5 separate regions of the Homo sapiens genome follow, and regions 2, 3, 4 and 5 are each linked to region 1. Evidence: fine-mapped expression QTL. A gene starts in region 1. Each other region holds a variant in brackets. All regions are shown on one strand. Distances are between the middles of the regions.

The links. PIP is the estimated chance that this variant, and not a neighbour inherited with it, causes the effect.
Region 2: its variant is the best candidate, but not a certain one, in a credible set for the expression of GAS7 in whole blood (INTERVAL, PIP 0.62).
Region 3: its variant is the best candidate, but not a certain one, in a credible set for the expression of GAS7 in monocytes (Fairfax 2014, PIP 0.89).
Region 4: its variant is the best candidate, but not a certain one, in a credible set for the expression of GAS7 in whole blood (TOPMed, PIP 0.71).
Region 5: its variant is the best candidate, but not a certain one, in a credible set for the expression of GAS7 in whole blood (INTERVAL, PIP 0.81).

The regions. Positions count from the first base shown.
Region 1 is chr17:10,195,295-10,201,439 of GRCh38, reverse strand. It overlaps GAS7 (growth arrest specific 7), which reads left to right and starts at 2,834. Exons shown (of 14, transcript NM_201433.2): 1 at 2,834-3,232. The coding sequence starts at 3,050.
Region 2 is chr17:10,124,389-10,129,609 of GRCh38, reverse strand. The region is part of intron 1 of GAS7 (growth arrest specific 7); the gene reads left to right. Among named protein-coding and RNA genes, the nearest start is that of GAS7, 72 kb to the left of the region's middle. RefSeq lists an enhancer at 1,643-2,360. The variant G/A (reference allele first, on the strand shown) is at 1,837.
Region 3 is chr17:10,106,787-10,112,931 of GRCh38, reverse strand. The region is part of intron 1 of GAS7 (growth arrest specific 7); the gene reads left to right. Among named protein-coding and RNA genes, the nearest start is that of GAS7, 89 kb to the left of the region's middle. RefSeq lists an enhancer at 5,161-5,702. The variant G/TG (reference allele first, on the strand shown) is at 2,879.
Region 4 is chr17:9,912,468-9,918,612 of GRCh38, reverse strand. GAS7 (growth arrest specific 7) reads left to right here. Exons shown (of 14, transcript NM_201433.2): 13 at 514-612; 14 at 1,272-6,145. The coding sequence ends at 1,385. Among named protein-coding and RNA genes, the nearest start is that of RCVRN, 10 kb to the right of the region's middle. The variant A/T (reference allele first, on the strand shown) is at 2,960.
Region 5 is chr17:10,077,954-10,084,098 of GRCh38, reverse strand. The region is part of intron 1 of GAS7 (growth arrest specific 7); the gene reads left to right. Among named protein-coding and RNA genes, the nearest start is that of GAS7, 120 kb to the left of the region's middle. The variant C/G (reference allele first, on the strand shown) is at 3,308.

The DNA of each region.
Region 1 (6,145 bases):
GGTATCACCAGAGAGTCTTTTCTTTTCTTTTCTTTTCTTTTTTCTGAGATGGAGTCTTGCTCTGTCGCCAGGCTGGAGTACAGTGGCGTGATCTCGGCTCACTGCAACCTCCACCTTCCAGGTTCAAGCGATTCTCCTGCCTCAGCCTCCTGAGTAGCTGGGATTACAGGCACGCGGCACCACACCTAGCTAATTTTTGTATTTTTAGTAAAGATGGGGTTTCACCATGTTGGCCAGACTGGTCTCAATCTGCTGGCCTCGTGATCCGCCCGCCTTGGCCTCCCAAAGTGTGGGGATTACAGGCATAAGCTCTCACAGGCTGTGCCCAGCCTAGAGAACTTTCTCTTAAGATGCTATTTGTGGGTGAGTCACTAGGATACCTGCTTTCTGACTGGCAGGGGGGACGACAGAAAGCAACACCAGTGTACAATAAGCTAGAATTGAGTTCAAAGCTGATTCTGCTGTTGACCAGCTGTATGATGGTGAGCAAGTCACACTCTTTGAGCCCAGTTTCTTTACCTGAAAACTGGGACAACAGTCACCTCATCAGCTCGTAGGATTACAGGAATGAAATGAATTAAGTGGAGAAATTAACAGCTATTATCATTTTTGGTTGCTGCAGGAATGTTTGAGGTGGGTCAGGTAGAACTCAAGTGTATGGCATGCTGTGTAGGCTGCGATTTCTCAAGTCCAAACTGGATCACAGTTCCTCACGGGCATGCAGAGAATTAGGGTTGCAGGATGGCTGGAAATCAGTTGTCCTACCTTGATTCAGGCCACATCATCAGGAATGAAGCCTCAGAACAGCCTGCTGGAAGTCACATATTTTCCTGATACAAGGAATTGTATCTCTTTTAAAACTTCATTGGGCCAGCTATTTTTAATGACTGTTTTTGATATGAAGTTATGCAGCTCCGCTTTAAGGGACTCTTAGTGGTGACTGTGGTCAAGAGTTTGTTTCTTTATATTTCCGGCCAAGCGAATGTTCAAGACTTTGCAATTGATGGACTATTACAAATAATCTGCTTGTGTCACTTTGCCCATGGCCAGAGAACAGATGGAGGCTGCTCAGGTGAGATGGCTTAGCTGCAGACTAGGGCTCAGTAGTGACTCTTAAAACCTGGGCATGAGTATTTTTAAAAAGTTGCATAATGACTGTAATGTGCAGCCAGGATTGAGAACCATTGAACTAGGTGAAAGGCTCTGTGCCAGGGTCTGATTCAAAGCATAGACAGGTGCGCAAGATCTTCAGGCTCTTGGAGCCCGGCCTGACTGGTTTTGTAATGGATATCTAGGCAGTCATAGTAAGAGGTGAAGCTAGAGGAGGCGTTGTGGAGGGCCTGAAATGTACAGGCAGAGAAGTTTGTACCAAATTTAAAAGGCAATAGGGAGCCACAGAAGGTGACTGGGGGAGGGGGGAAGGAGTAGACAGAGGTATACAGGCGTATTAAAGGGTCCAGCTTTTTTTTTTTTTGAGACGGAGTTTCACCCTTGTTACCCAGGCTGGAATGCAGTGGTATGATCTCCGCCCACTGCAACTTCCACCTCCCGGGTTCAAGCCATTCTCCTGCCTCAGCCTCCTGAGTAGCTGGGATTACAGGCACCCGCCACCACGCCCGGCTAATTTTTGTATTTTTAGTGGAGATGGGGTTTCACCTTGTTGGCCAGGCTGGTCTTGAACTCCTGACCTCAAGTGAGCCATTCGCCTCAGCCTCCCAAAGTGCTGGGATTACAGGCGTGAGCCACCGCGCCTGGCCGAGTCCAGCTATTTACAGGCTAAAAAATGTACTTTATTTTATTTCTTTAAAATTTTTTATGGAGTAGACTAGCAAAGAAACCAAGCTTTCTTTTACTTCTGTACGGTCAGTTCAAGGTCAACATTCTGCAGCACTCAGGTTCACTGGTCCCTGGAGAGCAGGGACTGGCCCAAATGATGTTTGTAGTACCTGGCACATCGCATGGAACATGGCAGCCTCCTGGTAATGTTTGTTGACTGACTACATGAGTGTAGACTCTTTAGCCAACCCATCTCGATTTCGGGAGGGCTGGTACCCTGGGCCGGCCTTCCCTCTGCAAGTAAAAGCATTGGTGCTGTTCCTCTCACCGTTCGCCTTTCCTCCATTTATCCCCATCGACTGTTTCCAATTCTATCAACTCCGACCCCGTCTTCTCTCCATTCCGTCCCTCCAGCGTGCCACGCTGCCACCAGGCTGCTGGGCTCAGGCGCCAGGCTTCAAACCTGTCTTTCACCCATTGTTCAGTTTCCGGTGAGACAAGTTCAACCCCAGGTTCAACCACTACAATGACAACCACAAACGATCCCTCGCAGACACCTCGAAGAAGCCGCCCGCACGCCACGGGCCGCCAGGCCTACAAAGCAGGCACAGAACAGAGGGGCGTTTCCATTCCCGCGGTCCCCGGCGGTGGGGGCGCGAGTGGGAGCCCCTCTCCCCAGTGACAGGCCCCTCTGCGAGGGAGCGCGCAGCCCTCCGCGGGCGTGGCCGCCCTGGCCCCGCCCCGGCCCGCCCCCTCGCCAGTGAGCTAACCCCCGCCCGGCCACCCGGCCGCCAGCTCCTCTCCACGGCCGCCCGCCGCGGAGTCCTGCCGCGGGGGATGCTCCGGGTCCCACCTCCCGGGGGAGCTGCGCATTTCCGCGCGCCAGGGCGGCCCCGGCCCCGGTCCCGGCCCCGGCCCCGGCCAGCCCTCGCGGCGGCAGCCCGCGTTCCGCGTTCCCGGGAAGTTGTCTCCGGAGCCCGCGGCGCCTGGGTCTCCTCCCCCTGAGCCCCGCCCCCCAGCCCAGAGCTAGGATCCGCGAGCTGCCCGGCCCGGGGGCGTCGCCGCTCGCTCTGCGAAGCCAACGAGTCTCTGCTTCCCGGCGCGGAGCGCGCGTCCCCCGCCTGCCTGAGGACCCCCGCGCACCCCAGAGACGGCGCGCGCCCAGAGCGCGGGAGCCCGGAGCGCCGGGCGCCTGGGACCCCGCGGAGCCGCTGCCCAGCCCGTGGGGCTCGGCGGGAATGCAGGCTGCGCTGTGAACCCGGGCGCCAAGGCCATGTCCGGCGCTCGCTGCCGGACCCTGTACCCCTTCTCCGGGGAGCGGCACGGCCAGGGGCTGCGCTTCGCCGCGGGCGAGCTGATCACGCTGCTGCAGGTCCCGGACGGCGGCTGGTGGGAAGGCGAGAAGGAGGACGGGCTCCGTGGCTGGTTCCCGGCGAGCTACGTGCAGTTGCTGGAGGTAAGGGGCGAGGGCCGGGGCTGTAGGAGCCGGGGCTGCGGTCCTCGGTGCGCTCGCGTACCTGTTGCCCGTTCCGGGGATGCCGCAGCGTCCCGGTCGGAGGGGCGCCCCGGGGGGCAGCCCTTGCCGGCGCTACCTGTAGCTCCACGCTCCTGGGGGGCAGCGACGGCAGCGGGCGCCCCTCGGGGCGTGGGCAACGCGGACTCGCGGGGAGCTTCCACCTTGCGCCGGGCCTCCGGAGCACACCGTGGCTGCTCTGAGGAAGCGAGAACTTGTTGCCTGTGTGAGTTAAGGAGCAGGCGGGAGCGTTCCCGGCAGTGGCAGGGGCCGGTGAAGGGTCTGGCGGTCTTGGGAAGAGGCACGGAGGATCAGGGGTGCGAGAAAGTGGCACCGACTCGGTCCCGCAGCCCCGCGTCTCCACCCCGGAGTCTAGAGCCTGATGACCCGTGGACGGTCGTGCTGCCTTGGGTCAGGCTGCCTGGCCGCCTCGGGACCACCCACTTGCTGGTCAGCCGAGCCTGCTGGCCACCAGCCCGAGCCCCCTCAGCAGGCTTGATCCTGGGGTGCCGTAGCACCCCCCGCCACTGCCTGCTCCCCTGGTCCAGCTCCCCGAGGCTAAGGCTCAGAACCCGAAAGTGGCTTGTTCCTGGGGTTCTGGCCTGGCCCCAGGGCTGCACAGGACCTGCTGAGGCAAGGCGGCTGGCTGTTTATTGTCTATGTGACAGGCTGTCCTCTAATCACTGAGCTCGCAGTCACAGCCTGAGTGAGACCCGAAGTTTCTAAAGTCCTTTGTGTGTGGGGGGGTGACCTTCCAGGACATCCCCTTTACTAGAAGCCCGCCTGCCCCCAGGATTCTTGTAAAGACTAAATTAACAGTTACCTTCAATGGTGTCAGTATTCCTAAACATTCTGGTAAAACACTGCCGGAAGAAATCATGGAGGCTGAATTTATTTATTATTTAACTCTTGACCTACTTCACAGAGAAAGTAGCAAATTTTGACTGAGAATGCTCAGTGCAATTCATCGGGGGCGGGGGGAAGAAAGAAAGAAGTGAAATGGTTACAGGGTGAGTCCGCCTGAGGATGTATCCTGTGGCAACATTGTCAGCAAGAGCCTGGCCTTATAAAAGTACATTAGATTGCTTTCAGGTCCAGAGAACAACAAAATCTCTCCTAAAGGCATCAGTAGCATTTGAGCAAAGTTTAGGGGCTGCTGGAATGAGCTTTCATGGGCTGTCAGCAGAGTATGTTGCAGGAACCCTCTTGGTTCTGTATCTGGAGAATCCGGAGATACCCTACTTGTAGGAGAGGCTCAGGTGTGCCCTGCCCTGGCTTTTCCAGTTCCTTTCCCGAGATTCGGATGTAAAAGAAAGCGAACGTATTGCTTCTTACATGAGAAGCAAGGGGCCTCCTTGTTTCTAGCTTGAAGCCCTGGGATAGATACGTATTTTGGGAGTTCTTCGGGTGGTCACCCTTTTCCAGGAAATTCTGATGTGGAAATTTGGCTGATGGATGTCTGTCCGGTGAGGAGCATCCCTGGCTGGACTGAGCCAGCTGTGTTTTGTGTAGGGGTGAGGCTGGGTAGGTGTTAGTTAGCAAGAGTGGAGTGCTGCTTTTTCTTCCGGGAAAGGGACGATGGACCAGGGCCAGGGGACAAGCGGAATTAACAACTGGGACAGTTTTGGGTGTGTCTGTCCCATCCTCTGGCATATACAAAGGTAAGAGATCTCTGGTGTCTCAGGGCCTCTCAGACCATTCCTGACTAGTAACTTGCAACAGAAGCATCCATCTGCGTGAGCAATACTTCTGAGCACCTGCTTGGCACAGTGTGTGCACGTTATCACCAGTTCCCTGACAGCTCTGTGAAGGGTGAGGTACTTCCCCCATTTTATAGACAAGCAAGCTGAATATGAGAGAGGCGAAGTCAGCTCCCCAACTAGTAATGCTTGCGTGTTTTGTTAGCAGCTCAGATGACTGAGTATCACCCCCTGCGCCTGTGCCTTTTTTAAACATGATAGCCCGGGCTCAACTATGCCAAACAGCGTGTGAGCGAAGGGTCTGGATCCATGGGGAAAAGGGGCATGCGCAGCCCCTGAGGTCAGCATGTTGGTGACAGCACCGCGAAGGGGAGGCTGAACCTCTAGGGCTAAAACGAGGACAGCTGCATCCAGGAGCAACTTGGAGGATCTTCCCTGCTAACCCCAAAGTGTGACTTTACTCAGAACCAGCTGGGGGTCTTCCCACAGTGGGCCCGAGTCCTGTATCCTAAGTACTGGGTGGGACTCTTCTCAGGGCCAAAGCAGATGCAGTTTCAACAGGGGGGCATGTGGGTCAGGTGCTTGGCATCTGGGAACCTCCTACATGAGCAAGTTGGACCTCAAGGCTGAAGGCTAGGTAGAGATAGAGGACATGCAAGCAGAGTTGCTTGGGATGGGGTGAGTCCTGAAGGGCAGACTCAGAGAATGCAGAGGTCCCCAGGCTGGTGGGTAGACTGGCCAGCATCTGGACTCATGAGACTAGAGAGGGGGCCCATAGATACTGGAGATGGCGAACCTCATGAGATGTCAGCCAATGTGGTGCTGTCACTCAGCTTGCTTGGGAGCATGGAGTTCAGAAGGCCAGGGCAGCTGTTGGAGAAACAAGTACAGACAGATGGACTGTACTAGCCTCCTGGCCTAGGGATGGGATTGTGGGTACACAGATGAATATGGCATCTCTAATGTGCTCCCTACTCCAGCGGAACTTTCACCCTGATAGAAAGAGTGATACTAGGAAACCCCATCTTGGTGGAGGGGAGGGAGGCACTGAATACTGTGTGCACACTGGATACTTCCCAAGGAGATCTTCCTTGTTCAGATGAAGCAAGGGGAACCGAGAGACCCAGCCTTTGCAGGAAGCATACACGGGGGAGGG
Region 2 (5,221 bases), 71 kb after region 1:
ATGAAGGCATCACCTAGTCTAAGAAGGTCATGAAGATTTACACCTATTTTTTTGAAGAGTTTTTTTGTTTTGTTTTTGAGATGGGGTCTCACTGTCACTCAGGCTGTAATGCAGTGGTGTGATCATAGCTCACTGCAGCCTTGACCTTCCGGTCTCAAACAATCCTCCCACCTCAGCCTCCCAAGTAGCTGGGACTACAGGCATGTGCCACCCTGCCCAGCTAATTTTTAAACCTTTCATAGAGATAGTGTCTTCCTGCGTTGCCCAGGCTGGTCTCAAACTCCTGAGCTCAAGTGATGCACCTACCTCAGCCTCCCATCGTTGCTGGGATTACAGGCATAAGCCATGGTGCCTGGCCAAGAGTGTTCTAGTTTTAGCTCTTACATTTAGTCTTTTGATCCATTTTGAGTTAATTGTATGCCGTGTGAGCAAGGAGTCCAGCTTCATTCTTTTGTATGTTTGTATCTCTCATCGCAGCAGTTTGTTGAAAAGATGGCCCTTTCCCCCATTGAGTGGTCTTGGCGTTTTTGCTATCAAGGCTCCTCTTACCTATGTTATTTATTTAAGTCAAAGGGTGAAAAAATGTCTTCTCATATATGTCTGCTGACCCACAGGGAGATACCAAATCAATCAGGATTATTTAGGTTAAAAGATCATTTGGTTTGGAATTTGAAAAAAGAAAAAGCAGGCCGGGTGCAGTGACTCACGCCTGTAATCCCAGCACTTTGGGAGGCCGAGGTGGGCAGATCACGAGGGAGGTCAGGAGATCGAGACCATCCTGGCTAACACGGTGAAAACCCATGTCTACTACAAATACAAAAAATTAGCTGGGCGCGGTGGTGGGCGCCTGTAATCCCAGCTACTCGGGAGGCTGAGGCAGGAGAATGGTGTGAACCCGGGAGGCGGAGCTTGCAGTGAGCCGAGATCACGCCGCTGCACTCCAGCGTGGGTGACTCTATCTCAAAAAAAAAAAAAAAAGAGAAAAGAAAAAGCAAAACGATCACTTATTTCACTGAAAATGAAAACAGGCAAGGGATGTTGTTGCATAAATGTAAGTAATGAAATGCTGGGTTTTATGTTCTGGCCTAGTTAAGGGGGTGAGAGGGGGAGGCATTTGGCCTCAGCTAGCTTTGGAATTCAATGATCTGTGGATTGATACTCAGAACTGATTGTATCAAGTATGGAATCCCGGGCTGTGGGTTTGTGGGTCTCCCATCCACCCCTCCCGTCCACTCCCTCTAATGGCTCCTGGGAGCAGCCAGAGGTCAGCACAGGGACAACCAGGCAGAGGGAACAGTCGTCTGTGGACTCTCCACAAGTTGTTTCTTGGCCTTGATTTAGGAAGGGGATTAGGAAATTGTTTCCTCTCGAAGTCTGCACCGCAGAGTGGAATCCTGGAGCACTGTGGCCTCCACCTCCCATGTGTGGGTTGGGCACTGGAGCCGCCCCGGAACTGCTGGTGAGGGCTGGGGAGGATGTACGCATGGCCTCCGTGTGTGACTCGGGGGCCCCAGCCGGGGTAGGGCCGAGCCCTGGCTCCCAGGCCTGGCTGGGCTCCCTGGAAACTGGACTGAATCCCTCGCCGGTGCTGCCTCCCCTCGGAGTCCATCCAAGCTGAACGCCTGAGAGCAGAGGATTAGCTAAGCCCCAGATGTTTAGGGGTCTGACTCAGTGTGTGTGTGTGCTCCGTTGAGAGCTTATGTGGCCCGAGTGGTGGTCCTGGAATTTGCTCAGATCTTTGCGTGGGTTCTGGTGTTTAATCAGCATTTCCAAGGAGATGCTTGGGATTCCAGGATTTACTCGATTTACTCAGAGATTCCTCTCCTAGTCCACTTC[G/A]CCTGGTTGGAGCTTGCCCAGTCTTGGGGGTTTAGGGGGACAGAGACTGGGGTCGGTTCACACCTTGGAGGGGGCCTTCTGCCCCTGCTTTCCATCAGAGCCCTGGAATCGGGGGATTTTCTGCGCAAGATCTGGTGTTTTCCTGGTTCAGATTAGTATCTTTAAAATTAAAATTCTTGAATGAGGATTGTGTCCTGCGGCCCTGAGTCTGTCCCTCTGTGAGTGCACAGCTAAAATACTTTCAGGGCTGCTGGGTGGGACTGTTTGATGAGGTGCTGGGGCAAAGAAAAATGGAGCGTTCCCCACAGGAACTTGAGCCCAGGTCTCCTCCAGGCCGTGGACTCGGTGTGCAATACTCCCCGCCTCCTGACCTGCTCATCCCCAGCTGGCACACTCACTTCCTGGGCCATGTTTGGTTCATCTTTACACAGCAGGCTGTGCAAAAGTGAGAGGGCAACATGGGGCCCCTGGAAACCAGGCGTTCCCCTGACGCAAGCTGAGGCTGCATCTGAGGAGGGGCTCGTGGAAGCACTGCTTTCTTCTTCCCAGGGCTTCCTGTTAACTCACTGTCCAGAGCCGTGGAAGGTTAAACTAACTTGATTTAGGGTTCAAAATGCAGGGAGCATCAGCCAGTCATTGGGAACACATGGCCAGCTGGAAATCCACACTCTCCCAATTGTGTAATGTTGCCAATTGATTTAAACTAACAACAACAACAAACAATGTAAGGTGCTGGCCAGCACCTACCAGCAGGCTGGCTCCAACCTTCAGGCCAGTAAACAGCCTGCACTCACACCCAGGTTTCTAGACTCCCAGCCTCTGATGCAATCTCCCTTCAAGGATACCAGGACTCTCTAGGGGAAGAAACAGAGACCCAAAGAGGTTAAAAAAGGTCACACAGCTTAAGCGGCAGAGCTGGGGTTTGAAGCCAGAACTGGTTCACTGTCTGCTGTGCTCTCACTGGGACTAGAGTCAGAGCCGGCTTGGTTCCGGAGCATAGTCTCTTCCCCGTGCCCCACGCTGGGACTGGCTCCTAACCCTCAAAAGAAGGCTGTTGTTTAACAAGTGAGTGGCTTCCCCGAATTCTGGGCACTTCTCAGGAGCAGGAGGAAGATCTTGAGAGAGAGAATATGTGTGTGCGCGAGTGTGTGAGTGTGTCTGCATGTGTGTGAGCGTGTGTGTGTGAATGTGTGTGTTTTCGAGAGTGTGTGCATGTCTGCGTGTGTGCGCTCTTTGTGTGTGTGCTTGTGTGTGCGTGTGTGATACGTGTTTGTGTGTATGTGAGTGGGTGTGAGTGTGCGTGTGTGCATGAGTGCGTGTGCGCGCGCGCGTGTGTGCATCTGCGTGTTTGTGTGTGCGTGTTTGCACGTTTGTGTGTGCATGTGCGTGAGTGTGTGGGTGTGTGTGCAAGAGTGTGTGTGAGTGTATGAGTGTGTGTGTGAGCGTGTGTGTGTGGCATGCACACATTCATGTGCATGTGATTTCTCTTTCCCTCACACCATTCATTAAGGGTTTCTTCCCTGAGAACTCCAGGAAGTTCCAGGAGAACGGACAGGATTAGAGCAAATACTTTCTCCTGTCTGAGAAGCGACTCCCCCATTTAACCCTTCCCCTTCCTTGAGTCCCTGGGACAATCACTGCTGGAGATTTGGTGGCCAGGGAACCCAAATAGTGTGGCCACCACCCCCGACCCCTGCTGTGGGTCCCTGGCAGGTCAGAGGGCTGCTCTGCGATGGGGGCCAGGGAACACATCAGCGCAGGCTTCATACTGCACAGATGGGTTGCACCCGTGGTGGTCAGAACGCACATGGAGCCAGCCTTGTCCAGCTCTCTCTGGCTCTGCTGATTCCAAGTCTGTGATAGGAATCGGGGCGGGTGTATGTGAGGGTAGAGAGGAGTGGAAGGGAAGTGTTTATATAAATAACACAGGGTGGAGGGGCTTCTGAAAGATTTACTAGCTAAATATTTTCCGGATGTTTTCATCATCCTTTAAGGCCCTTCCAGAGGAAGGCTAAACAAGACTTAGTCTAATTCCCCCAGTGGCCAGTGGCTCCCACCCACAGCTGACCCCCTCACACCCGGGCCTCATTCTCTACACCACCCTGCCCTCCTCCCTCCTCATCTCCCCATCACCCTTTACTCCCCTCTTTCATCCAACTGGGAAAGAAAGAACAATCCCCATTTTATCCTTTTATGATCATATTATACACACAGTTGTTTGACCTTTTTTTTTTTTCTTTTTTTTTTTAAGATGGAGTTTCGCTCTTGTCACCCAGGCTGGAGTGCAAGAGTGCAATGGCACCATCTTGGCTCACAGCAACATCTGCCTCCCATGTTCAAGCGATTCTCCTGCCTCAGCCTCCCGAGTAGCTGGGATTACAGGTGCACACCATCACACCCAGCTAATTTTGTGTTTTTAGTAGAGATGGGGTTTCACCATGTTGGCCAGGCTGATCTTGAACTCCTGACCTCCAGTAAGCCATCTGCCTTGGCCTCCCAAAGTGCTGGGATCATAGGCATGAGCCACTGCGCCCAGCCTTGACCTATTTTTTTTAAATTTAATATTCTCAGAATATATTTCTATCATTAAATATATTTACAGGTTTGTTTTAGTGTTTGTTAGTCACAATTTGGATAAACTATTAATTTGCAATCCCCTTATGATGGACACTGAGGTTCTTCCACACCCCCCCTTTTTTTTTTTTTACTGCTATTAAAAATTACTGAAGATAACCATTCCTTGTGATGATATCTTTTTGCACGGAGAGTAATTTCCAGGAAATGTGGACCACTCAAGTGCACATTTTGACCCATGGTGTCATACTGCTCTTTATTTTTATTTATTTATTGAATTTTTTTGAGGATTCTCACTCTGTCACCCAGGCTGAAGTGCAGTAGCGCGAACTCGGCTCACTGCAACCTCCACCTCCCGGGTTCAAGCGATTCTCTTGCCTCAGCCTCCTGAGTAGCTGGGATTACAGGTGCGCACCACCATGCTCAGCTAATTTTTGTATTTTTAGTAGAGACAGGGTTTCACCATGTTGGCCAGGCTGGTCTCCAACTCCGACCTTAGGTGATCCACATGCCTCAGCTCCCCCCCAAACTGCTGGGATTACAGGCGTGAGCCACTGTGCCCGGCCCCACACTGCTCTTTAGAAAGGTTGTACCAAGTCCTTGAGAATATCCAGTGCCCCATTCGCTGGCTAAGCCTGGCATTTGCAGGCCGAAAGAGAGCCAGCAAATCATGAGATCTGTAGCCACCTGCAAATGGTGTGCTGTGGGAGCTAGGCAGGCCAGAGCCCCGATCTGCCAGTGGGGATTTGTGCGCATGTGTGGGGTGCCTAGGATGTCTGGGTTCCTTCCTTCGAGATTTAGTAAGGAACTG
Region 3 (6,145 bases), 89 kb after region 1:
AATCCTTTGCAACACTTGAATTTTCTACTTGTGATGACACTACTGGACTCTCTTTTCTCTTTTCTTTTTCTTTTTTTCTTTTCTTTTCTTTCTTTCCTTCCTTCCCTCTTTCTTCCTTTTCTCTCTCTTTTCTTTTCTTTCTTTCTCTTTCTCTCTTTCTTTCTTTCTTTTTTCTTTTCTTTGTTTGTTTTTGAGATGCAGTTTCACTCTCATGGCCCAGGCTGGAGTGCACTGGTATGATCTCAGCTCACCACAACCTCTGCCTCCCAGGTTCAAGCAATTCTCCTGCTGAATTCAGCCTCCTGAGTAGCTGGGATTACAGGCATGTGCCACCATGCCCGGCTAATTTTGTATTTTTAGTAGAGTTGGGGTTTCTCCATGTTGGTCAGGCTGGTCTCGAACTCCTCACCTCAGGTGATCCACCCACCTCAGCCTCTGAAAGTGCTGGGATTACAGGCGTGAGACACCGCGCCCGGCTAGACTCCATTTTCTACATGCTACTCCTATTATCTTTTCCTACTTCCCTCCTCTCTCTCATCTCCATCTGCCCTACCTTGCTCCTGCCTGAGTCTTCCTCTTGTTTTCCAGTGTTCTGTGTCTTCTGCCTCTCCCTTTCCAAAGATAGAGTCTTTTCAGTGAAAAGCCCCACACGTGGGCAAACACCCCTGGAAAGCATCCCTCGCTGTGTGTCTTCGGTCACGTGCTCGAGGATGCATCCACGGTGGAATTGGATGCAGTGACAGCATTTCTCTGCTCCCAGGCTTTTCTAAGTCAGGGAGCTGGAGGTGAAGCTGTAGCAAAGAATGCCTGGAGAGATGCCCTCAGGCAGCACAGCCCAGTAGAACTCTCTGAGGATGGCAATGTTCTACTTTTGTGACGCCCAGTACGGTAGCCACTAACATGTGGCTGGTGCAACTGCGGAAGTGGTTCTTTCATTTGGATTAATTTATATTGAGGGGCTGTATGTGTCCACTGACTACCATATGGGAGAGCACAGGTCTAAACTGTATGCTTTTAGCATGAAAATAAGAGTCTAAGAAGCAGAGTGTATCTGGTCTAGGTTTCCTCAAGTCGAAACACGGCAGCAGTTCTTCATCAGGGTATCCAGGCCCCATGACCTGGTCCAATTTTGGAACTCCCGAATTTCGCCTATTGGAAACACAATTGGGGTTAGGCTGCCAGACCCACCAAGGAGGGTCGCAATTCCCTTGGAATATAGGCCTCCCTTAAAGACTTATTTATTTATTTAGAGACGGAGTCTTGCCCTGTCTCCAGGCTGGAGTGCAGTGGCGTGATCTCGGCTCACTGTACCCTCTGCCTCCTGGGTTCAAGCGATTCTCCTGCCTCAGCCTCCCAAGTATATTTCTGGTTTTTTGTTTGTTTGTTTGTTTGTTTTTTTGAGACAGAGTCTCACTCTGTCACCCAGGCTGGAGTGCAGTGGCACAGTCTTGGCTCACTGCAACGTCCGCCTCCCGGGTTCATGCCATTCTCCTGCCTCAGCCTCCCAAGTAGCTGAGACTACAGGTGCACGACACCACGCCTGGCTATTATTTTGTATTTTTAATAGAGACGGGGTTTCACTGTGTTATCCAACATTGTCTCAATCTCCTTACCCATCATCCGCCCACCTCGGCCTCCCAAAGTTGTGGGATTACAGGCGTGAGCCATTGCGCCTGGCCATTTCTGTATTTTTAGTAGAGACGGGGTTTCACCATGTTGACCAGGCTGGTCTCGAACTCCTGACCTCAAAGGATCCTCCCATCTCAGCCTCCCAAACTGCTAGGATTACAGGTGCCAGCCAAGACACCCGGCCCCCTTAAGGACTTTTGATATCCATAGATGTACACAGCAGTTACTGACCTACAAGTTGTGGACACCAAAGCAAACTAGCCCTGTCTAAATAGAGCATCTTGTGTTATTTTACTTTTTAATCGACGCGTAATGTTTTACATATTTATGGGGTAGATGTGATATTTGGTTGCATGTATAGAATGTATAATAATTGATAAGTCAGGGTATTTGGGGTATCCATAACCTTAGCGTCAGTCATTGCTGTGTGTTGGGAACAAACATTCTTCTAGCTGTTTCAAAATGTGTGATATATTGTTGCTAACTATAATCCCTCTGCTCTGCTATCCAACTTTAGAACTTGTATCTTCTGGCTGGGCGCAGTGGCTCATGCCTGTAATCCCAGCACTTTGGGAGGCTGAGGCGGGCAGATCACTTGAGGTCAGGAGTTCGAGACCAGCCTGACCAATATGGTGAAACACCGTCTCTACTAAAAATACAAAAATCAGCCAGACGTGGTGACATGCACCTGTAGTCCCAACTACTTGGGAGGCTGAGGCTTAGACAGGAGAATTGGTTGAACCCGGGAGACGGAGGTTGCCGTGAGCCAAGATTGCGCCATTGCACTTCAGCCTGGGTGTCACAGCGAGACTCCGTCTTAAAAAAAAAGAAAAGAACTTATATCTTCTGTCTAACTGTATGTTTGTACCCCTTAACCAAACTCTCTTCATCCCCCCTCTTTCCCACACACCCTTCCTAGCCTCTAGTTAACTATCTACTCTCATCTCCACGAGAGCAACTTTTTTAGCTCCTACATATCAGTGAGAACACTGATCTTTGTCTTTCTATGCCTGGCTTATTTAACTTAACATAATAACCTCCAGTTCCGTTCATGTTGCTGCTAATGACATGATTTCTTTCTTTTTCATGCTGAATAGAATTCCACGGTGTATATATACCGCATTTTTTTATCCACTTGTCCATTGATGGACACTTAGGTTGATTCCATAATTTTGCTATTGTGAATCATGCTGCAGTAAACGTGTGAGTACAGGTATCTCTTTGATATCTTTTTTTTTTTTTTTTTTTT[G/TG]AGACGGAGCCTTGCTGTGTCGCCCAGGCTGAAGTGCAATGGCACAATCTCGGCTCACTGCAACCTCCACCTCCCGGGTTCAAGTGATTCTCCTGCCTCATCCTCCCGAATAGCTGGGATTACAGGCGCCCACCACCACGCCCAGCTGATTTTTGTATTTTTAGTACAGAGGGGGTTTTACCACGTTGGCCAGGCTGGTCTCAAACTCCTGACCTCATGATCCACCCGCCTCTGCCTCCCAAAGTGCTGGGATTACAGGCGTGTACCACCGCGCCTGGCCCTGTTTTTGTATTTTTAAGTAGAGACGGAGTTTTGCTATGTTGGCCAGGCTGGTCTTGAACTCCTGATCTCAGGTGATCCACCTGCCTTGGCCTCCCAAAGTGTTGGAATTACAGGCGTGAGCCACTGCTCCTGGCCTGATGTCTTTTGATATCCTGATTTCTTTTTGTTTGGATAAATACCCAGCAGTGGGATTGCTGGATGGTATGGTTGTTCTATTTTTAGTTTTCTGAGAAGTCTCTGTACTGGTTTCCCCAGTGGCTGTACCAATTTGCATTCCCACCAGTAGTGTACAAGAGATCCCATCTTTCCTCATCCTTGGCAGTATCTGTTATTTTTTATCTTTTTAATGATATTTTTTATCTTTTTAATGATAGCTGTTCTAACGGCTGTCATTAGCAGCAACATGAATGGAACTGGAGGTTATTATGTTACCTTAAGTTAAATAAGCCAGGCATACCCGTTCTAACTCTGGCGTAAGATGATAGCTCGTTGTGGTTTTAATTTGAATTTCCCTGGTGATTAGTGATGTTGGGTATTTTTTTATATGCCTGTTAGCAATTTGTATGTCTTCTGTTGAGAATGTCTATTCATGCCCTTTGCCTACTTTTTAATGGTTATTTTATTTTTATTTATTTTTATTTTTTTAAATTTTTTTTGCTGTTGAGTTCCTTGTATATTCTGGCTATTAGTCCCTCATCAGATAAATAGTTTTCAAATATTCTCTCCCATTCAATAGATTGTCTTTCCACTTTGTTGACTGTTTCCTTTGCTTTGTAAAACCTTTTTAGTTTAATATGGGCCCATTTGTCTATTTTTGGTTTTGTTGTCTGTGCTTTTGAGGTCTTAACTGTAAAATCTTTGCCTAGACCAATGTCCTGAAGTGTTCTTTCTAGTAGTTTTATAGTTTCGAGCCTTAGTTTAAGTCTTTAATCCATCTTGAGTTGATTTTTGTATATGGTGAGAGATAGGGGTCCAGTTTTATTCCTCTACGTATGGATATCCAGTTTCCTCAACACCCCTGATTGAAGAGACTGTCCTTTCCTCAATGTGTATTCTTGGTGCTTTTGTTGAAACTCAGTTGGCTGTAAATACATGGATTTATTTCTGGATTCTCTATTCTGTTCCATTGGTCTACGTGCCTGTTTTTATATGAACGTCATGCTATCTGGTTACTCTGCAGTGCAATTTTTAAATATCTGAGCTAAATACAAAGACAGATCCTCCAAAATCTGAAACTTTTTCAGGACTATATGATGCTCAAAGAAAATGCTCACTGGGGCATGCATTAAATAGAAAATCACAGTGCATGGTAGACACACTTGACAGCAATAAGTTAAGCATACCCTGAGAACGACCCTGTGTGGTAGATGCACCAGAATGTGTGTGTGGATTTCCATGCTAAAGAATCAGGCAGTGGCCAACTCAGAGATTCATTCCTTACCTATGAGAAACATCTGAGCCCTTGGCCCGTCCAGTGGAACACAGGCCATATGGAGGACCAAGGCCCTTTCTTTTGGGTTAAATGAAGGTTGCCAGGTGGAGGTTGTTAGGGAGAGGATGCAAAGCAAAAATGCTCTATAAACTGCATGCTTCAGGCAAGTGCTTGCAGTTCTCCTGCCTAGCTGGCCACGCTGGGCCATGTGGTTCTCCAGCCCAGCCCGCCACTGGACTGTGGTACAGTGATTCTCTTGCCCAGACCCCCTCTGGACTATGGTAAGGTGGTTCCCCTGCCAAGCCCTCCACTGGACTGTGGTAAAGTGATTCTCTTGCCCAGTCCCCCACTGGGACTGTGTGTAAGGTGGTTCTCCTGCCCAGCTCCCACTGGACTGTGTGTAAGGCGGTTTCCCTAACCAGCCCACCACCACTGGACTGTGTAAGGCAGTTCCCCTGCCCAGTCCCCTACTGGACTGTGTGTAAGGTGGTTCTCCTACCCAGTCCCCTACTGGACTGTGTGTAAGGCGGTTCTCCTGCCCAGCCCCTCACTGGACTGTGTGTAAGGCGGTTTCCCTAACCAGCTCACCACCAGTGGACTGTGTGTAAGGTGGTTCCCCTGCTCAGCCTGCCACCACTGGACTGTGTGTAAGGTAGTTCTCCTGCCCAGCCCACCACCACTGGACTGTGTAAGGCGGTTCTCCTGCCCAGCCCCCCACTGGACTGTGTGTAAGGCGGTTTCCCTAACCAGCTCACCACCACTGGACTGTGTGTAAGGTGGTTCCCCTGCTCAGCCTGCCACTGGACTATGTGTAAGGTAGTTCTCCTGCCCAGCCCGCCACCACTGGACTGTGTGTAAGGCAGTTCTCCTGCCCAGCCCGCCACCACTGGACTGTATATAAGCTACTTCTCCTTCCCAGCCTGCCACCACTGGACCACTCTGTATGTAAGTTTCCAGCTGATAAAACCCTGTGTCTCATTGGCTGGCTCTGTGTCTCGTCTTTGGCCTCTTGAACCTGGGGCCGTTCCTATAAAGGTTAATGGAGGCCCAGCAAGACAGACAAAGTAGAACTTCACCTTGTAGTGTTATGTAAGAGGAAGTGTGTTAGTTTCCCATTGCTGCTGTAACGAATGCCACAAATGCAGTGACTTAAAATGCATTTATTTACTCATAGTTCTAAGGATCCAAAGTCTGAAATGAGTTTTACAAGGCTAAAAATTAAGGTGTCGGCAGGGCTGGTCCTTCTGGAAGCTCCAAGGAGAATCTGTTCCTTCCTGTTTTCATCCTCTTGAACTCCTTCCTTGGCGCCTGTTTCCACCTTGGTGTAAGGAACCACCTTACCACAGTCCAGTGGGACTGTGGCATCAGCCTCTTTCTTCTTTGACCTTGTCTTCCTCTTAGACCCTGTGATTGCATTTAGAACCTACCCAGATAATCCAGAATAACTCCCCCACCTCAAAATCCTTAAGTCAGTCATGCCCTACAAAGTCCCTTTTGCCATATAAGGTAACATTCACAGGTTCTGGTGATTAAGATATTAATATATTTGGGGG
Region 4 (6,145 bases), 280 kb after region 1:
CAAGGTCCCAGGAATGTGTGGCATGGAGCTCCCACATGTGCCCCCTTGTTATACCCCATCAGGGCACCAGGGCCAGGGCTGCATGGGTGCATTGCCATGAGTAACAGCCTGATGGACTCTGGTTTAAATCCTGTTCCTCCCATAATTCCGTGTCGCTTTGGGTGAGCTGTGTTGTTGCCTCTCTAGGTGTTAGTTCCCCAGTTCCCTTGCTTGGAGAATGGGGATAATAACAGAAACGATCTCTTAAAATTGTAACGAGGACAGTTAAGGAACGCACGTAAAGCCCTCAGCACTGTGCGTGGCGGAGCAGGATTTCAGGAAGTAAAACAGCCGCTGCTGCTGTCATCAGCTTCACCTTCACCTTAGATATGGGGCACGCTCTTCATCAGACCCCAGAGAGTCAGATGGGACAGAATGTCCACAGCCAGTGACTTGCGTTTTGTGGTCTTGGTGGGGGGACCCCCAAGTGGAGGGGACGTGCTCAGAGTTCTCTGGCCTTTGCTTTCTCGGCAGGAGCTAGAGCGGCTGGAGGTGGAGAGGGTAGAGATGATCCGGCAGCACCTGTGCCAGTACACGCAGCTGCGGCATGAAACAGACATGTTCAACCAAAGCGTGAGTTTCCAGCCCAGCGGGGCTCCCGGGCGACACGGGGCCTGGGGAGAGCCGCCTGGCGCTAGGCCGTGGCAGGTTAAGTGGCTGCTGCAAGTGAATCTGCCCTAAAGGCGGGCAGTGGGCAGGTGCTCTGGCCTGGGGGTGGCCTCGTGGACTGGGCCTCTCAGGATTGTCCTGGACGTCTGTGTGATTCCGACCCTGGCACATGAAGTGGACACACACGTGAGCTGTTACCCTGAGGAGAAAGAAGCTCGTAACAGTTACAGTAGCTGAAGACATTATTAAATTTCTTAAAAAACAAAACCAAAAAAAACAACTTCTAGAAATATTCACAATACCTAAAGCTCAAGTTTTATTTGTCCTGTTCACTGGTGGTAAATGTGGGGTGGAAGGGATAGAGACAGGTTTTAAGGCCCTCCTGGCCTCTCATCCAGGCCTGGGGTCTGCAGGGTGAGAAGCAGGGTCGGGATGCATACTGGGTTCCCCGTTCACAGCCCTCTTCATGTGCTGTCCCTCAGATGGGCCTCCCCCTGGGGCCCCGGAGCCCTCTAGAGAGGCTGCTCTCAGAGACACTAAGGTGAGGACAGCATGTCTCAGAGGAGACCTCCCTGGCTTGGCCGCCGTCTCTAACAGTGTCGCATTTTCTCTGTCTCTTGCAGACAGTCGAGCCCGTGGATCAGCTGCTTCGAAAAGTGGACCCGGCCAAAGACAGGGAGCTGTGGGTCAGAGAGCACAAGACGGGCAACATCCGCCCTGTGGACATGGAGATCTAGATGGGCCTGTGCAGCTTCGGGGGGTCCTGCTGGGGAGGGGGGCTGGGCTCCCACCATGGGGCCCATGCCGAGTGGATGCCCCCCACCCTCTCTCCTGGGCCACTGAGGAGAGGGGAGAGAGCTGGTGATTCCAGAAGGGTGACCCGGACAGCCTAGCTGGGGGCTCCCCCATATTCCCAGGCCCAGAAGACAGACCCACAGCCCTGCCCTTGTCTCTGAGGCTGAAGACCCCCTGACTCCCATGCTGTGCTTGCCGCTCTGAAACAAACAGAGGCTGGAACTTTGTGGTCCTTGCCGAGTTTTGTAGGGGTCACTGTCACATGCTTGTGCCCTGGAAGCCCCAAGGCTCTTCCTCCAGCTGGCTCCCTTGTCTCCAGGGCTTTGGAGGATCAGGGTAGGGAGGGCTCTGTCTCTAAGCCAGGTGTCAGGATCAGAATCATGGGTAGAAGGTGCCATTCAGCTCACAGCCGCACCCAGAATCCTTTGCAGCCCTCCTTCTTTATTTTTTTCCCATTGCATTCTGGGAGTCCACATCTGGCTTTCTCAGCCACTGTTCATCACCAGGGGTTTTAGGAGGAAGGCTTGGCTCCTGTCTTCCCAGACCCACCATGCCTGGAGAGGTCAGGATGGAACTACCTCATTCGGCAAATTAGCCCCAAATTGAGCGCTGAATCGTGTCCCATGAGATCAGGCGCCATCTGTAAAGTCTCCTCTGGAAATGCCAATCCATCCTTCCCCCAGCTGCTTCCTCGGGGAGGCCCCTGCCCCCACCCTGCCAGCCCTTCCCAGTCTCATTAGAGGAAGCTTTCCAAAGTTCTCAGTTATCAAGACCTCATCCAGCTCGTCCAAAGGCTTCAGGGATGGAAACAAACCAGCTCGTCTCAGAGGCCAGCAAGCTGGGGCCTGTCCGCCACGGTGCCCTGTGCACCTTTGGGCTGCCCTGGCCCCCACTCTCCCGGGCCGCCCACCACAGGCTCTTAATGGGGCCGGGTCAGTCCTACATGTGAGATGGGTTAGGGCAAGTCTTTGCCATCCCCCAGATGGCTCTGTCTTCTTGTGTATGGCAGGGCTGGGACTGCTGTCCCTTGTACAGTTTTCTGTCACTGGTGGGCACTGGACAGGCATAGCAGACTCTCTTGTGGCCACACTAGGTTGTCGCCTTTCAGGCAGTGTCCCGCCACCTTTGCTTCCCGCTCCTTCTGGACATTCCAGAGCCCTGCACCAAACCCTTACTTGGTGTCTGCACCTCCTTTCCCTCTCTCCATCTTCCAATCCCTGGAAAAGTCTGGTCTGAGTGTGACTTGGGAAGCTTTCAGTGCTGCTGTTTGGCCCAGCTCATTACTTTCTCCCTTTCTCTACCACAGCAAACACATTCTCCACCATGTCAGTCTAAAGAGTCTAAAGGGGCCGGGAGAAGCATGAGCGAGGGGCAGATTCTAGTCGGGAGCCCATGCCCTGGAAATCCATCTTTCTTCATCTTTCCCATTGACCACTTTGGGTTTGACCTGCACATCTGCAGTGAGGGCAGAATTCAACAAGCACAACTCACTGGTCTTTCAGTCAACGTGCTAGAA[A/T]CCGATGACTTATTAATCTCTAATTTTTTGGCGCCTCTTTCATTGAATGAGAATTGCTTTCGTATAGTTCACATTAGAAAAATGCCTAATATACTAAAGTAAACCAAACGTTGTCACTTTTCTCTTGTTCTTGAAACATTGCAACCAAAAAGGTCAGCACAAAGGCCTTCACCTACGTGAAGACCTCCTGGTAGGATCTGTCCATGGGATGGAGAACCACTCTGTCCAGATCTGGGGTTGGGTCATGACACCAGCTACCAATTTTAGAATATTATTTCTTGGTTTCTTTATGAAAAATGGGTGCTAGTGGTAATTGCTTTGTGGCTTAGTAAACTACTCTGTGGATGATTTCCAAACATTCAAAGCCAATAGCCTTGTTATTAACAAGATATTTTGAGTACAATATGGCTCATTGACTTTTCCATTACATCTGAGGATTCCAGAGTCCTCTGTTCATCCCTGGGATAGAGTGAGCCCTCTTGCGTCTTCCAGGGTAGCTCAGGTTGGCCCAGTTTGGGCCAGTCCATTTTTGGAGGTCACTCTTTCCCCCCTCATCCCCTCACCTCCTTCTCTTTACCCCCTTCACGTACTTCCTTTCTTTCTTCCCTCTGTTATTCATTCATCAAGCAGGTTAAAGCCATTGTGCTAAGATCTAATCTGAGGACACTATAATGGCCCTGTCGTCAGGGAAGCCCGTGATCGCTCGTTTTCAGGGGTCTTACCGGTCAGCAACCTTGGCATTGATACATAGGCACTCTACAGAATTTAAGTTTTCAGAGGTAAGTCTGTTGTTCTGATTAATCTGCATTCATTCAGCGAATGCTCAAGACAAGCCAGGCATGCTGAGAAGCGGCGCTCTAGTTGTATGTAAGATGGGCATTCCTCTGCTCTCCTCTATTCTCCATGTCGACTGAGAAGAGTATAATAAGAACATTGTACCCTCTCCACACTTAACCCTCTGGGATTCTTTATTATAATATAAACCACCGTCGTGAGGCATTTACCTGTTGGATGGAAGGTAGACAGCAACAAGATTTTAATCACCTGGTCACCAGACCCTCACGGCCCATATCCAATTCGAATTTCAGAAATTTCTCTGTTTGCTTTAAATAACTCTTTACAAATAAGGGTCGGGCACGGTGGCTCACGCCTGTAATCCCAGCTCTTTGGGAGGCCGAGGTGGGCAGATCACGAGGTCAGGAGATCGAGACCATCCTGGCTAACATGGTGAAACCCCGTCTCTGCTAAAAATACAAAAAATTAGCCAGATGTGGTGGTGCACACCTGTAGTCCCAACTATTCGGCAGGCTGAGGCAGTAGAATCGCTTGAACCTGGGAGGCGGAGATTGCAGTGAACCAAGATCGGGCCACTGCACTCCAGCTTGGGTGACAGAGCAAGACTCCATCTCAAAAAAATTATAAATAACTCTTTGCAAATAGGAAAGTGAAGCTCAAGGGTAACCAGTGAGGCTATGAAATTGCCAGTGAATTAAGACCAGGGCTAGAGTCAACAGTCCAGAACCCCTATCCGTATGAACAGGGGCCCGTTTCTGGTTGAAATCAAGGTTAGGATGCAACTGAGAAAATAAAAGACTGCACTTTGGAGAGGCAAGCACGCTATCCGGGTTGTTGTTTTGTTTTATGTCTTGGTGCTTAGGTGAGGACTTAGCTGGGTTTATTCAAAGTGGGCGGGTCTGGGCTATTCTTGAGAATGTCCCTTCCATTTCTGAGAACAAGTCAGCCCCTTCTACCTGCCTCCACCCAGGAGACTGATGCACAAGATCTGTTTGTGAAAGCCTGATTTAAAAAGAAAAAAAAAATTCCTTAAGCCAAATGGTGTTCCAAGTTGGTTGCTGTGACAACCTCCAGGAAGAGCCACTTGTTACCCTCTATTCTTTCTAGTGCTTTCAGTCAGTGGCAACACATAGGCCCCTTGGACCGTGGGGATGGCGGCCCTGAGATTCTGTCAGTGGGACCACCCTGGGCCTCCTTTCTACCTCCACTCAGCACCCTGTTGGCCAAGGAGAATTTCTGCGGTGGGAGGCAGTGCTCTGCTAGTCAGGATTGATAAACAGCTGGGCACACCGAAACAGTGTACCAACGAATTCACCAACCAGGGGTTTCTTTCCCTACCCTTTGTGAAAACCAATCAATTACTAGATGAGTGGATGGATGCAGAAAAATCTGGGCTGAGCCAAAGTCCCTTTTGGAAATACAAGCCATAACATTCGAAGGACATCAGCGACCTTGGCTTGTTTAGGTGATTTTACTTCCAGCTGCAGGTAGTCTTGACAAGGAGTGTTTAAACAGAAGGCTCAAGATGCATTCCTTGTGTAGGTCGGAGAGAGCACTTCTAATGTTAAGTGGGGTACAGATCAGCTGCCCCCCCACGTAGCCTGGACATCGTCTTATCCCCATAATCCTTGCCATCCCTACAAGGCCCATCGCCACCACCTTTTCCCAGGTTTATTGAGGTATGATTGACATCCAGTAAAATTCACCCTTTGGAAATATACAGCTCTGTGAATTTTGACAAATTTAGTGTCTTGTGACCATCACCAAGATCAACCTGTTTTTAACCCTCCAAAAAATTCCCTTCTCCTGCCCTCTTTCCCTGGCAACCCTGATTGATTATCTGATCCTATAATTTTGCCTTTTCTAGAATGTCATATAAATGGAGTCACACTGATGTCGCCTTTTGAGTCTGGCATCTTTCCCTCAGCTTAATGCTTTTGAGTCATTCATGATGTGTGCGTGTGGTTTGTTCCTTCTCCTTGCCGGGAAGTATTTCATTGCATGGGCGTACTACTCTGCTTCTTTATTTTTACACTGAGCCTTTCGCCCTGGAAGTTCTTGGCCCAGGGTCTTCAACTTGTTTGCACGACCACTTCCAGCTTGCTGCTTCCTTCAGTTCCCCAGGCTCCTCCTCCAAATGCCAGCTGTGCCCACAAGCTGTTCTTAGGGCTCACACTCGCCTTTTGGCGCGTGGTGGGTTTTTGGTAGTGCAGAAAGAATCCAGGGATGGGAGGGGAAGGGACGGATGGGTGCTCAATTGCTGCTCACGTCTGCTGCAACCTGAAGCTTGCATCTCAGCCAGCAGATCTGCTCCCTTCTGGGACCCAGGCTTCAGTGTCACACGGTCCTTGGCTATGTATTGGGCGTTGGAGGCTTTGAAAGGCGAGCAGA
Region 5 (6,145 bases), 120 kb after region 1:
CCACCCAGGTTTAAGCAATCCTCATGCCGCAGCCTCCCTGTGAGAGCAGCAGGAGGCAGCCAATGCCTAGGTAGGCAGGGGCAGGTCCCTGTGAAACCTCACCTCCAGGCCGAAGACAGCTTAAATCCTGAAAGCCAAGCTACCATTTAAATCCTTGGACCAGACTGAGAACTTGTCTTCCTGTTTGGTGTGCTTTCCTCTGATTGATCCCTACCCTTCACCTATTTTATGTATACCTACCCTTTCCTAATTGGTTTTCTGTACTGCCAGGCCCACTTCTGCGTGGTGTCTTTGCTTTAACCTTTTTTGCATACTCACAAACCAATCAGCATGCACTCCCCATTCTGAGTCCATAAAAGGCCCTGGACCCAGCCACATGGGGGACTTTCCTGCCTTCAGGTAGGGGGACCACCCCTGTGTCCCCTCTGTATTTAAAGCTGTTTCATCATTCAATAAAATTCTTCTCTGTCCTCCTCACACTTCAATGTTCAGTGCATCCTCATTCTTCTTGGATGTGGGACAAGAACTTGGGAATCAGTGCACAAGCCAGACTTGGCCTGGGAAGGCCAACTGGGCAGGGCACCTCCTGCGGCAGATAGCATGCCCTGGGCAAGGCCTCTGGCATCGCCAGCCAGAAGTCCCTGACTGGCAAAGGGACCGAGAAAAATCCTGCATCACCGAGTCACTGGGATTACAGGCGTGCACCACCACACCCAACTAATTTTTGTATTTTTAGTAGAGACAGGGTTTTACCATGTTGGCCACGCTGGTCTTGATCTCCTGACCTCAAGTGATCCACCCATCTCAGCCTCCCAAGTGCTGGGATTACAGGCATGAGCCATCACACCTGGCCTAAAGTCTGTTTAATTTTTAATAAAATATTTAAGTCTACAGAAAATTACAGAGATGTTAACAAATGTATCTGCCATTCGTATTTTTAAAATCAACTTTACTGAGCTATAATTTCTCATGAAATTTATTACATGCGTACAGGCCAATGAGTTGACAAATGTATACACCCTTGCAACCACTACTTGAATTAGTCAGTGTGTAAGACATCTTCCCAGAAAGCTCTCCTTTGCCCCTTTGCAGTCAGTTTCTCTCCTCTGTACCCACTCATCTCTCCAGGTCACTTCTGAATCTGATTTCTATCCTCTAGGTTAGTTTTGTTTGTTCTAGAGTTTCACAGAAATGTGTCATGCAGTATGTACTCTTGAATGTGGCTTCTTTTGCACAGGATAATGTCTGACATTCATCCTCATTGTTGTACCAATGGTTCACCCCTTTTTATTGCTAATGAGAATTCCATTAGTTGAATTTACTGCAATTTGCTTATCCTTTTGTCAATTGATGGACATTTAGGTTGCTTCCATGATTTAGCTATTATGAATAAATCTGCTGTGAACATTTGTGTATAGGTTTTTCGGACACATTTTCACTTTTCTGGCATAAGTACGTAGGAGTGAAATTGCTGGATCATATGGTAAGCATGCATTTAACTTTATAAGAAATGGCAAAACTATTTTCCGAAGTCACTGCTTCAATTTCCTCATCACAGCAGCGTATGAGCTTCTGTTGTTCTACCTCCTTGCCAGCATTAACAAAAATTCTTTTAGCCATTCTAGGGAGTATGATGTAGTTTCCCATGGTGCTTTTATCTTGTATTTTCCTGAAGGTTGATGATGCTGAACATTTTTCATGTGCTTATTACCATCTCTGGATTTGACAAGTATTAACATTGGCCACATGTCAGTCAGAAATAACACATTATTTGACATTAAAAATCCTGTGTGTTCTTCCAATTCCTTTCCCTTCTTTCCTTCTCTTCCTGGAGGCAACCACTGTTCTGGGGTTGGTATGTGTTTCCCATGAGCATGTTTAAAATCTTTATTAACGTGTGTATATCCAAAATACTGTTTAGCAATGTCTTGTTTTGAAACTTACATGAGATGTGCCATACGATATTTATACCTTGGTAATTTACTTTTTTCACACAATGTGTTTTTGAGTTTTTTTCGTGTTGGTGCATGTAGAGCTAGTTCATCTTAACTGCTGCGTACTGTTCTAGCATGTGCATGGGCCACCTTTATCTCCATTGGTGGACACTTTAGGTCATTCTAAGCAATGGTGTAATGCTTATCCTTATGCCTGTCCCCTCGTGTACCGGCCTGGGTATTTCTTGGGTCCATATACCTAGAAGGAAAATATCTGGGTCTGAGAATGTACATCTGGACTTTCCTAAATAGTGTCAAATTGTTTTTCTGAGAGGTTTTGCAAATGCAGACTGCCACCCACAGAGTATCAGAATTTCCATTTGCCTTGCCAACACATCAGACTTCTTATTTTTGCCATCCGAGGGTGTGAAATACCACACCTTGGATTTAACTTGCATTTGCATTTCCTTCATTGCTAGTCAGGTCGTGTCTGTTTTCAAATGTTTATTTACCATTTGAATTTCCTCTCTTGTGGGTTTCCTGTGCATTCTCTGCTCATTTTTCTATTTCGCAGTCTTTCAGTCATTGCTTTACCGCTTCATTTTCTAATGATGTATTTTGTCATGCAAAACTTTTTTGTTGCAATCTAGTCAAATTTATTAATCGATTACTTTAGGGATTTTGCTTTTTATGCCTCATTTAAGAACTCTTGGCTGGGCACAGTGGCTCACACCTGTAATCCCAGCACTTTGGGAGGCCGAGGCGGGTGGATCACAAGGTCAGGAGTTCGAGACCAGCCTGACCAACATGGTGAAACCCCGTCTCTACAAAAAAATACAAAAATTAGCTGGGTGTGGTGGCACATGCCTGTAATCCCAGCTACTCAGGAGGCTGAGGCAGGAGAATCGCTTGAACCTGGGAGGGGAAGGTTTCAGTGAGCTGAGATCGCGCCATCGCACTCCAGCCTAGGCAACAAGAGCGAGACTCCGTCTCAAGAAAAAAAAAACTCTTATGGTGAGGTCATATATGGTCTTAACTTTTCTGAAAGTTTTAAAGATTTTTGTTTGATGTTGAGATCTTTGATCCATTTGTAATTTCCTTTTATTGTTTGTTATAAGGCAAGAGCCCAATTGTACTCTTTTTCTGAGGAGCCTGTCATCTTGTTATTACTTATTTTAAAAAATCCCTCTATTCTCACCTCGCTGATTTGATGACCACCTTTGCTGTATGTTTTTATAAATGTGTGTTCTGTTGCTGGGGTCTTTCTTCTGGTTTCATTGGACTATTTGTCTATCTGTTCACTATTTTAATTGTAACTTTGCAAGAAGTTTTACTATCTGATGGAATAAGTCCTCATTCTTCTTCAAAATTGT[C/G]TTGGATGTTCTTGGCCCTTGACTATTTCCTGTGAATTCTAGGATTACCTCCTTGAGTTCTATGAACAACTATTGCATTAAAATGGCACTACGTTTTGAGATTAATTTGAGAAGAAAGATCTCCTTGGTAATATTGGGCTTCCTATCTAGAAACAAGTTGTATATTCCCATTGATCTAGATCTTCTTTATTGTATCTCAGTGTTACTGGAAAGGGGTCCTGAACCAGACCCCAAGACAGCGTTCTTGGATCTTATGCAAGAAAGAATTTGGGGAGAGTTCATGGAGTAAAGCTAAAGCAAGTTTATTAAGAAAGTAAAGGAATGAAAGAATGGCTACTTCATAGGTAGAGCAGCTCTGAGGGCTGCTGGTTGCCTATTTTTATGGTTATTTCTTGATTATATGCCAAATAAGGGGTGGATTATTCATGAATTTTCCAGGAAAGGTGGCAGGGGCAGGGGGCAGTTCCTGGAACTGAGGGCTCCTCCCCTTTATAGACCATATAGGGTAACTTCCTGGCATCTGTCAACTGTCATGGTGCTGGTGGGAATGTCTCTTAGCATGCTAATACATTATAATTAGCGTATAATGAGCAGCGAGGATGACCAGAGGTCAGTTTTGTTGCCATCTTGGTTTTGGTGGGTTTTGGCCGGCTTCTTTGGCACAGCCTGTTCTACCAACAAGGTCTTTATGACCTGTATCTTGTGGCCACCTCCTATCTCATCCTGTGACTTAGAATGCCAAATCTACTAGGAGTGCAGCCCAGTAGGTCTCAGACTTATCTTTTACCCAGCCTCTATACAAGATGGAGTCACTCTGGTTCAAACACCTCCAAAGTCAGTACATTACATTGTCTCCATATAAGTCTTTTACTCTTTAGTTATATTTACTCATAGCTCACTTATAGTTTTGTTGCCATTGTGCGTGGTGTATTTTTTTTCTTTAAATTTGATGTTGTCAATGAAAAGAGTGAAACTCTGTCGAATATTTGAAGAGTTTTATTCTGAGCTAAATATGAGTGACCATGACCGTGTCACAGTCCTCAGGAGGTCCTGAGAACATGTGGCCAAGGTGGTCAGGGCGCCGCTTAGTTTTTATACATTTTAGGGAGATATGATCAGTCAAATACATTTAAGATATACATTGGTTTGGTCCAGAAAGGTGGGACAGCTTGAAGCTGGGGTTTCCAGGTTATAGGTAGATCTAAAATTTTTCTAATTGGCAGTTGATTGAAAGACTTATCAATAGAAAGGAATGTTGCAATAAGAGACCAAAGTTTCATCATTTAGATGAAGCCTCCAGGTAGCAGGCTTCAGAGAGAATAGGTTGTAAGTATTTCTTATCAGACATAAGGTCTGTGTTGAAGTTAATGCTGGAGGGTTGTAATGAAGCATGTCTGATCCCCATTTCCCTTCATGATCTGAACCAGTCTTTCAGGTTAAACTTTAGAGTATCCTGGCCAAGGAGGATGTCCATTCAGATAGTTGGAAGGACTTAGAATTTTATTTTCGGTTTACAGTGTTTATGTTTATTTTTATCAAAGTAATAGAGTTTTAAAAGAGCATTCTCCTACCATACTCCACCCCAAATGCTTCTCAGAGTCCACCACTTGTAACAATGGGGCTTTATCTCCATTTGGGGTTTTTGTTATTTTAGAGAGAAGGGTTTGCTGTGTCACCCAGCCAGGAGTCCAGTGGTGTGATCATAGCTCACTGCATCCTCTGCTTTGGTCTGTCGCTCTTCAAGTCTGAACAGTTGTCATCTTGATCTTTCTTCACCATCATCTGATTACTTTCCTTTCTTTCTCTTCTTTCTCTGCTCAAGCGATCTTCCCACCTCAGCTTCCCAAGTAGCTGGGACTACAGGAATGCACCATCACACCTGGCTAATTAAAAAAATTTTTTTTTGTAGAGATAGAGGTTTTGCTATGTGGCCCAGGCTGGTCTTGAACTCCTGGCCTCAAGCAGTCCTCCCGCCTTGGCCTCCCGAAGCACTGGGATTATAGGCATGAGCTGCTGCACCTGGCCCTTTTTCTAAATGATATGTTTATACTGTTGTATATCCCCCTACCTACCAATTTTACACACTGTCTATTGAACTTCTTATTGCAGAAGATTAGACCTGGCTTTTCCACCAACACTTTACTTTTTCCTTTCCTCCATATATAACCTCTTCCCTCACCTCCCACAATGGTGGTCCTATGGTGATATCAGGGTCTGGTGTTTATATTATTATGCCAGTGTAAATTACAACTGAGCTACTGATTGCCTTCTACTTCTTTGGTGGAACAACAACAAGAAAGCAAATAAATAAAAACAAAAGCAATTGGTTTTATTTACTTGGTTTTCTCTGTCCCTTGCACCAATTCTTCTCTCTTCACTAGCCCTTTAAAAACTTCCACAGGCTAGGTGCGGTGACTCATGCCTGTAATCCCACCACTTTGGGAGGCTGAGGCAGGTTGATCTCTTGAGCCCAGGAGTTTGAGAGCAGCCTGAGCAACATGGCAAAACCCCATCTGTACTAAAAATACAAAAATTAGCCAGGCATGGTGGTGCACGTCTGCAGTTTCAGCTACTGGGGAGCCTGAGGTGGGAGGATTGCTCAAGCCTGGGAGATCGAGACTGCAGTGAGCTGTGATTGCACCACTGTACTCCAGCCTAGGTGACAGAGTGAGATCCTGTCTCCAAAACAAAACAAAACAAAACAAAACAAAACACACACACACACACACACACACACAACAGAAAAAACAACAAACTTCCGCATGTACTGTCACCTATCACCACATAAAATAATCTATCAGGTCTGTTTTTTCATCTCAATAGAAGCATCTATTTGCT